Regions from separate parts of the Homo sapiens genome. Here region 2 is linked to region 1. Evidence: fine-mapped expression QTL. A gene starts in region 1. The other region holds a variant in brackets. All regions are shown on one strand. Distances are between the middles of the regions.

Evidence for each region. PIP is the estimated chance that this variant, and not a neighbour inherited with it, causes the effect. A credible set is the group of variants that fine-mapping cannot tell apart.
Region 2: its variant is the best candidate, but not a certain one, in a credible set for the expression of FLRT1 in tibial nerve (GTEx, PIP 0.61).

The regions. Positions count from the first base shown.
Region 1 is chr11:64,033,407-64,037,780 of GRCh38, reverse strand. FLRT1 (fibronectin leucine rich transmembrane protein 1) reads right to left here and starts at 1,850. Exons shown (of 3, transcript NM_013280.5): 1 at 1,622-1,850. The region is part of intron 3 of MACROD1 (mono-ADP ribosylhydrolase 1); the gene reads left to right. RefSeq lists enhancers at 6-907, 908-1,810.
Region 2 is chr11:64,127,687-64,132,060 of GRCh38, reverse strand. The region is part of intron 3 of MACROD1 (mono-ADP ribosylhydrolase 1); the gene reads left to right. Among named protein-coding and RNA genes, the nearest start is that of MACROD1, 36 kb to the left of the region's middle. RefSeq lists an enhancer at 1,991-2,584. The variant C/T (reference allele first, on the strand shown) is at 2,238.

The DNA of each region.
Region 1 (4,374 bases):
CAGCAGGCCACAGCTGCCTTGGGGGTGTGGGCTACGGAGCCTCCATGCTGGGGTCAGGGTGCTTTTTACTGAAGAGTATCCAGTCTCTGTGTCTGGGAAAGAACATGGGACTGGGTGCGCACACACACACACACCCTGTGCCCATGGCCGACCCTTCAGCCAGATATGTGACAGCCCTCAGCTCTTCCTGCCCCTCACACCTACCAGGGCCCCCTCACTGCTGGCCCAGCTAGGCAGCGTCCCCTCCCAGGCACGGGCCCTGTCAGCTCAGGCCATTTCCATTTTAAACCTTCTGAGGAAGCCCTGAACAGTCGCCCACGGAGTCAGCACCAGCTGACAGGTGATGTCTGCGCCTCTCCTCCCGGGGCTGGCGGAAGAGATGCAGTAGCTTTCAACTCCAGAAACTGGAATCTGGAGCCCCTGAGCGCGGCGGCTGCCTCCCCCGCGGCCGCCGGGCAGAGACAGGGTGCCTCAGCCACCTCCCTCCACAGTGGCATCGTGGGTCCCCCCCACAGACAGCCTCCTTCCTAACTCCTGAGCCACCTGGGGAGGGGGATGTGGAGGGGCTGGTTTCCATCCAACCCGAGGGCGTAGGGGCCGCGGTGAGGCAGGGCTGTTCTCAGTCACCCCTCACCTCCGTCCCCAGCCTTGGCTGTATTTATTCACATCAGAGCTCTGGCTTGGGCCTCGGGGGCCTGGCACACCCCAGCTGGGCTGTATTCTCTCAAAACTGCCCACCCTGGAGGGCCTCGAAGACCTCCCGGGGCCACCGGGAAGGCTGTGGCAGCTCCCTGGTGTCCCTGTTCCACAACTTTCTCCTCCTCGGGGAGCTCTGATCAACCACGGTTCCCTGCAGCTGGGCGACAACACTCCCCAGCCTTCCTCCCCGGGGTCTCCAGTGCCCGCGAGGAGGGGCGTGCGCCGCCGGGTCGGGCCGCCTCCTTGTCTTGAGAGCTGGGGGATGGGGGGTGCCCGCCGCCCCCCGCCCAGGCACCATGGTCTCACCGTTCCAGCCGCCAGGTGTACGGCCCCAGCCCCCGCCCGGCTCAGGGCTGACGGTCCACAGCGCGCACAGGGAGGGAAGTTGGAGGCTGCTCATGCCCCCCTTGAAGTCGTTTTAAAAATAAAACCTCGCTCCAACCGTGACTCACGCGGCTGGTGGGGACGGGAGCGCGGCGCCCAGGCCGGCCGGCTGTCCCTGGCCGCGCGCCCTCCTCCGGTTCCCGAGTGCGGGAGCTGGGACCCACATGACCGGCCTGACGCCCCCCACGGGCCAGGCCCCCTCCCTGGGGGGTGCAGCGAGGGCTTGGACTAGAGCTCCAGCTGAGCCCCCGCCCTTTCCAGCCTCGGCTCGGGAGAGCTGAGCCGCCGGCCGCGCACCCCGCGCCTCCCCGCGGCGGGGCCAGCGCCACCGCTACTGGTGCTTGGCTCTTGACTCAGGGACCCCCACCCCAAATCCCAAAGGCTGGGCGTCCCATCTCCCGCCGCTCTGGGGCAAAGCCAGGCTGCCTGACCCCGTGGCGCTTCGGTGCCCCCGGGCCCCCGGCCCCCGCCCCGTCGGCTCTGGCGCCCTGTCCCAGACGCGCGGACCCCGACCCCCGCCCGGTGCAGCCAGCCCTACCTGCGCAGCGGCCGGGGAGGCGGGTCTCCTCGGGAAACTTTGCGGTGACGGCTGGAGCCTCAGGGGTTATTCCAAGGAGCGGGCGGGAACCAGAGCCGGAGGGCGCCCAGGGGGGCCCGGGAGAGGAGCCCCCGGCGCGCGGCAGAGCACGGTGGCGGGCCCGGAGCGGGGGGCGCGCGGCGGCGCATCTGCCCGGCTCGGGCGCCCGGCGGAGCCGCGGGAGGAGTGCGGGGGGTGCGTCCAGCGGCGGGGTGCGTGTGCCCGGGCGGGTGCGCTCGGCGGCGGGGCGGGGACCAGCGGCGGTGCCCGCGCGAGCGGCGGCGGCGAGCAGGGCGCGGGGAACCAGGCTGTGCGGCCGCCTCTCCCCTCGCGGCGGCGGCGGCGGGGGCCGTGCGTGCAGGCGCGGAGCGGGGAGGGAGAGGAGGAGGAGGGGAGGGGGAGGAGGACGGGGGCGCCGCGCTGCGCACTGGCCGGCGGGACCCGGCGCGGGAGGCTGCGCCGCCGCGCGGGGATTCTGGCCCAGCCGGGGAGAAGCGGCCTCCGCGCCCCCCTCCCCCGCCCTCGGCTAAACTGGCTGGGGGAAGGGCGGGTGGGGGAGCCGACCCCTCTGGGGAGTTGGGGGAGGGAGGCTCCCAAAGCCAACCTCCACCGTGGAGGCGGGGGAGAAAGGGGTTCTAGCTCACGCGCCGCCTCCCCAGCACCCTCCTCTCCGCACCCACTCATTCAACCATCCCTCCAGCCATCCATTCATTCATTCATTCATTCATCCGTCCACCCGTGCATTCATTCACAAACAGGTACCCACCGCCTACTCTGCATGCCAAAGTAACCCCTTCCTTCCTGCCTGGCGCCCCTTCCCTGGGCAGACCCTCTCATCCGCCGCGTGCTGTAAACACCCGGGCGCTCCCCAGCAATACCCCTCCCACCTATTAAGGGGGCAGTGCCAGGGTCCCATGCCAGCGCCCCCTCCCATCCCCAGCTGACTGTGACCTTGGCCAAGTTGCTGAACCTCTCCCAGCCTCAGTGTCCTGGATTGTGAAATGGGACCGTTACTACCTAGCTCCAAAGGTTACTGTGAGAGATGAAGAAGACCTTGAATGGGAGGGTGGCTGGCCCAGTGCCTGGCACCTATTAGAGACTGGGAAGATGTTCATGCCTGTGGGTGGCATCCGGGTGGGGTGAGGGAGTGTTTAGACCAGACAGCCTCCTCTTAGCCTGAAAGTCCCCGTGCTCTTGGCATTCGCTGGGACACTAAGTAAGGGACTCTCCCATATACCCAGCCTGGCCTGCCCTGGTCAGACCTCATCACCTTGTCAGTGGCTGCTCTGAGTCCCAAGCCTGCCCAGAGCCCCCACCAGGGCCCCAGTGCTCCTGATCCACCCTCAGACCGCCCACAGTCTGGCTGGGACCCCCTCTGCCGGCCCTGCTCTTTGCTGTCCATCGAGGCCTGGGGGCCACCTCCCCTCTGGGATGCCCTCCCAGATCCCCTTGGGGAGGGTCCCCCCTACAGAGACTCCAGCACCTCTCCCCCTCCTTTCCCTGTGCAAACCCAGCCCTCTTGCGCCCAGTCCGGGAACAGACTGGGGCCTAGCCTGAGGCCGCCGCCTCTGGCCTCTGTGCGCTCTGCATGCGCCTGTCTTTGCCCTTCCTGCCTCTCCCTCCTCACTTCACCCTTCTAATTTCCCTCCCCTTAACTCCCTTTCTTCTTTCTCCCAATTTCTACTCAATTCACCAAACAGCTATTTTTTCCTCCCAATTTTTATTTATTGCCCAAACAGCATTATACCAACAATAAAAGAAAGAAAAATCACCCACAATGCCACCGCCCTGTGGCGTCAACAGCTTCCGTTCCTCTGCTCCCTTCCAGGCTTGTCCATGCAGAGACGGCTGTAATTTTTACAGAGCTGTGGTTTCCGTCCCGCCTTCCCAGACCCCCAGATGGACGTGTGGCCCTGGGGCTCTGTCATTCCTCCATCCCAGCACTTGGCGTGTGGCTCAGGAATTATGTTCAAGCCTTCCTCCTCTTCTGAACTAAATGTCTTGAAGGAGAGACCCCTTTCTATCCCTGCCACCCCCACACCAAGCCACAGAGCTGGCACAGAGCGCGGGCACTCAATGCCTCGCAGTGGAATGGATTGTATGATTGTAGCTCTGTTTGACATGTCACACTTAGATATCAAAATGTTATCTTCGAGCCAGCCATGGTGGCTCACACCTGTAATCCCAGAGCTTTGGGGGGCTGTGGTGGGATGATTGCTTGAGACCAGGAGTTTGAGATAAAAAAAATACAAAAAAATAAAAATAATAATTTTTTTGGGGGGGCGGCGTTTCACTCTTGTCGCCCAGGCTGGAGTGCAATGGCACGATCTCAGCTCATGGCAACCTCTGCCTCCCAGGTTCAAGCAATTCTCCTGCCTCAGCCTCCCGAGTAGCTGGAACTACAGGAATGCACCACTACGCCTGGCTAATTTTTGTATTTTTAGCAGAGACGGGGTTTCACTATGTTGGCCAGGCTGGTCTCAAGCTCCTGACCTCAGGTGATCCACCCAACTCGGCCTCCCAAAGTGCTGGGATTACAGACGTGAGCCACCACACCCGGCAAAAAATAATTTAAAAAAAAAATTAGGCACCTGTAGTCCCAGCTACTCAGGAGGCTGAGGCGAGAGGATCACTTGAGCCCAGGAGGTTGAGGCTGCAGTGAGCTATGATCGTGCCACTACACTCCAGCCTGGGCAACCTTGTCCCTAAAAAAC
Region 2 (4,374 bases), 94 kb before region 1:
CAGGGGAAGGTGCAGAGACCTGGCCCCAGCAGCTCCGGCATGGGGAGGCCCCACTTCCAGGGCTGCCAGCAGTCACTGTGATGACTGGCATGTAGCAGATGCTCAGTCAAGTGCGCCCCTCCCTCCCGCCACTCACTTCCCTCCGGTTCCCCCTGCCCCCCTCCTCAGCTTCTTTTCTTTCAAGGGCCTGTTTGCCTGTAGGAGATTTTCATCAACCAACCACAAATATTTACTCAACACTTACCGGCAGGCAGCACGTGAGCTCCACAGGGCAGGGGGCTCTCGGTCCCATTTGCTGCATGTTCCCCATCTGAACAGGGCCTGGCATGCAGTAGGTGCTCAATAAAGGCTTGGTTGGTAGTCACAGCCTGAAACAGGGTAGTCTCTGCTCCCAGAGAGCTTACATTCCTGCTGCCTTCAGAAAACATCCTGAGGGGCTGGGCGCGGTGGCTCACTCCTGTAATCCCAGCACTTTGGGAGGCCGATGCGGGTGGATCATTGAAGTTGGGAGTTCAAGACCAGCCTGGCCAACATGGAGAAACCCCATCTCTAGTAAAAATACAAAAATTAGCTGGGCGTGGTAGCACACGCCTGTACACGCAGCTACTTGGGAGGCTGAGGCAGGAGAATCGCTTGAACCTGGGAGGCGGAAGCTGCCGAGATCACCTCACTGTACACCAGCCTGGGTGACAGAGCGAGACTCCATCAAAAAAAAGAAAACGTCCCGAGGGTCTTTGAGGGATCATGGAGCCCCCACACGTGGGTGGGGTGAGGGTCTTAAAGCCTGCCCTCCCCGTCACTCTGAGCTATGGCCAAGCTGGGTGTAACCCTGGAGAGAGTCAGGGTGTCCTCACCCGCTTCAGGCAGCTGGCCCCCATTTCCCTCTGCAGTGCCTGGGGCGGGGGTGACAGGGAGCATTTAGACCCGCAGCTCCCTGCACAGGGACCTCCTGGGGCACTCGCCTGCATCACAAGAATAAAAATGATAAAAACCTGCCACTGAATTCTGGGTGGCAGTAAATTACTTAACACCTGAAACAGGTTGAAATGTGGCCACTGTGGTTTTAATAAGCCCATCTCCGATGCAGTGCTTCCTCGCCGGGCCGGCCAGTTCTCTTCTTGAGGCATAATTTCATCTCGTCCCAGGCTTGGCAGCATTGCAAATAAGATTTCACTTCCCCTGTAAATCTTAGAGGGAGGGAGTGCAGGATTTCATTTGTGCTGTCAGTTAGCACTCCAGAGAGCCTGTTTACTTTGCCGCAGGAGGAGAAGGTCCTCTGGAGGTGCTGGACAGGGTGGCGGGTGGGGAGGTGGCAGTGTCAGCACTGGAAGGTGACGTGGGTGCGGCGGCGGGGAGGCAGCGGCATGTGTGGGGGGGTCCTGGAAGCATGCCTTATTTGGGGTGCCTGAAAGTGGATGAGCCAATGTCAGACCCACGGAGGCAGAATTTCAGGGCCAGCTGGGTGCCCTCCCATGCGTCCGGGACCCTCCTAGGCTGGGTGATAAGACTCAGCCACAGAACTTGGGTGTGGGGGTGTGGCCTGGGGTGTTAGACCCCTCCCAGGTTCCGACGCCTCTTCTTCAGGTTGCTCGGTGAGGCCAGAGACCCCTCCTGGGAAGTAGGGGCAGGAGAAGGGAAGCTTCCAGAACCCAGTGGTAGCCAGGTAAGGGCAGTTTCCAGGTACAGGAAAGCAGCCATGGAGGGGTAGGTATCACCCACTCTCTCTCTCTCATTTGAGCAGGAGCTTTTTAGTCCTGAGTCTGACAAAACAGACGGAGTCAGATACACAAAGCCGGAGCCCCGGGACTTAAGGTGCCTCTTGGCCGCAGGGCAGCCATTCGGGGGTCTTACCCACACGTGCCCCTAATCTCAGTGATAATGCAAGTCCTGAGAGATTTGTGGGGAAGGAAAGGGCCCAAAGTGGCTTGGCTGGAGGGTGGCACGGTGGGGGGCTGCAGCAGTGGTGTGGGGTAGGTTTCTCGGGGGACCACCCCATCTCCTGGCATCCAGCTGAAGACATGGTGTCAGGGCTCTTTGGGGCCAGCAGGTCCCCTGCAGTGCCTTTGAGGCACTGGCCAGTCCTGCTTGCTTTCCTGTAAGAACGGGAGGCTCACGGCCCCCCAACCACCCGGTCCTCTTCAGAACAGGTTATGTTTGGAGGGTTTTCCTTTCATTCCTGAAATGCAGGTCCTGGCAATTCCCTCCTGTGCGGCCCAAACCTGGCTGAGCCTCCAACT[C/T]CCCTGGGGCGCGTATTAAAACCTGAGATGTCCCCCACACCCACCCCCAATCCTGAAGCCTAAGGCTGCAGCCAGCCTGTCATCCTCTTCAGCAGGCCGTGGACCTGGGATTGTTGTGGGGGTGGTTTGGGGAACAGGCCCCACCCTGTACGGTTGCCTCTCTGTGCTGGACCTGGGGGCACTTTGCTGCCTGGGTCCAAAGGTCCTGCCAAGAACCTGGGCCTCCCTGCAAGAAGTGCCAACCAGCTCAGCACCTGGCTCCATCCCTGGGGGCCAGGAATGCGGGAGAAACCCCCCAGGAGGCTGTGCTGGGGGTGGGGGAGGCCTACACTCCCCAGACAAACTGTAGGCAACCCGGCCTCCCACGCCCTCTCACAGAGGCTCCGTCACAGCCGTAGGGTTGGTGCGGGTGGTTTCTGAGCTGGGCACTCCCAGTGGCATTACCTGTGTCGTCCCACCTCACCCTCCCAACAGCAGTCGGGGATGGAGCTGTTATCATGTACGCATGGAGGTGGAAACTGAGGCACAGAGAGGATGAGTAGCACATGTGGTAACTGGCGGAGCCCATGGGTCTAACCCAATACCCAGGGACTCCAAGGCCCTGCCCCAGGAGAGCAGTGGTGTTAATCCAGTGGTTCCCAAAGGCCTGTGACCGGGAACCCTTTCTGGGCAACACCTGTGTTAGCTCCAGGGGCTGAGGAACACAGTTTGAGAACACAGCCCTTCTTCCCTAGCTTCGAGGGCTCCACAGGTGTCCCCAGATTTGTGGCGCTGCCACACGTGGGGAGGGTGAGGTAAAGCCGGGAGCAGGACTTCCTGGGGAAGGGTGGGTTCACTGGGGTTGGCAAGGGCTGTTGTGCTTGGAGAATCATCCTCCTTGTACTCACATGGATCCATGGAGTGATTGGCTGATTGATTTACTGTTTATCGACTCACTCTTCATTCCTGTTTACGGGGCCTCCTGGTGCCAGACAAGTGCCCTCTGGGGATCTGGAGGTGTGGAGGGCAAGAGCTGCCAGTCTGGGCTCAGCCAAGCGAGGCGTGGGAAGGGGTCACCTGTGCAGGTGAGAAAGGCCAGCAGAGGCGTGGGAAACCAGTGCAGCATAGACCTGAAGTCTAAGCCACACTGGGCCTGGGGGGTGTCAGGCGTGGAGGGCAGAGGGTGGGGCTGCACTGAGGCTGGAGTCTGAGGGGGGCAACGGGGAGATGGGGGGACACAGGGCCTTCCTGAGTGGGGCGCAGAAGTGGACCTGCCCTCCTGTCTACCTCAGGCGGGCGGCGTGCCAGGCCTTCCCCATTGCCTCCTAGTCCTCCTTATCCGTGGAAGCGTCCTCTGTGGAAATCTGGTTCCCCACAGAGCCTCCCCAGCCCCACCCAGGCTAGGCCCTGACTCAGCCACGTAGATTCCTCACTCCTCCATGAGGCAGGAATACACCAGCCCCAGAGCATAGCAGGCCCTCAGTCAATATCTCCTGGCTGGCTGGCTGGCTGACTGTGTTCCAGAAAGAGCCCTCGACAGCCCCAGAGAATGGGTCTCAGGTGAGGGAGTGGGCACCCCTCCTGGGCACCCACTGTGCGCTGGGTCTCAGGGAGAAGTTGGAAGAACAGCCTGGGTCCTTTCCTGGGTGGTCACACTGTGTGCCACACCTTAGAGTGGTCTCTCTTGGGCTGCTCCTGCCCTGGCAGGACAGGAGGTGAGGATGGAGGAGGAGGGTGGGGCAGAGAGCACCTGTGGGGCCCACGTCACCCCACTCAGGGCCACCGGCCACTGAGAATTAACTTTGCTTCTTTGGAATATAAGGAAAAACCCGTTAACTGTATCCAGACATGAAATCAGATCTCAGGCAGAAGTAATGAGTTCTTGTTTTATGTTAAATTTAGCAGAGACTGCTATTGTTCTCATGGAAATTTTGTTCCTTCCTGTCCCCCTCCCTTTGGGATGTGAGAGAGGCAGATGAGGCTCCAGAGCTGTGAGTGTAATGGGTACATCTAGGGGATGGGGGGCGTCTGGGGTGGTGGCATAAGCTCATGTCCCCAAACACCCGGACAGTCCCACTTTTACCCCGGAGCCACTTGGTTGCTGGAGCCTCTTCCAGGATAACCCATAGCTCCTGCTGACACATACTTCTCCATGTAG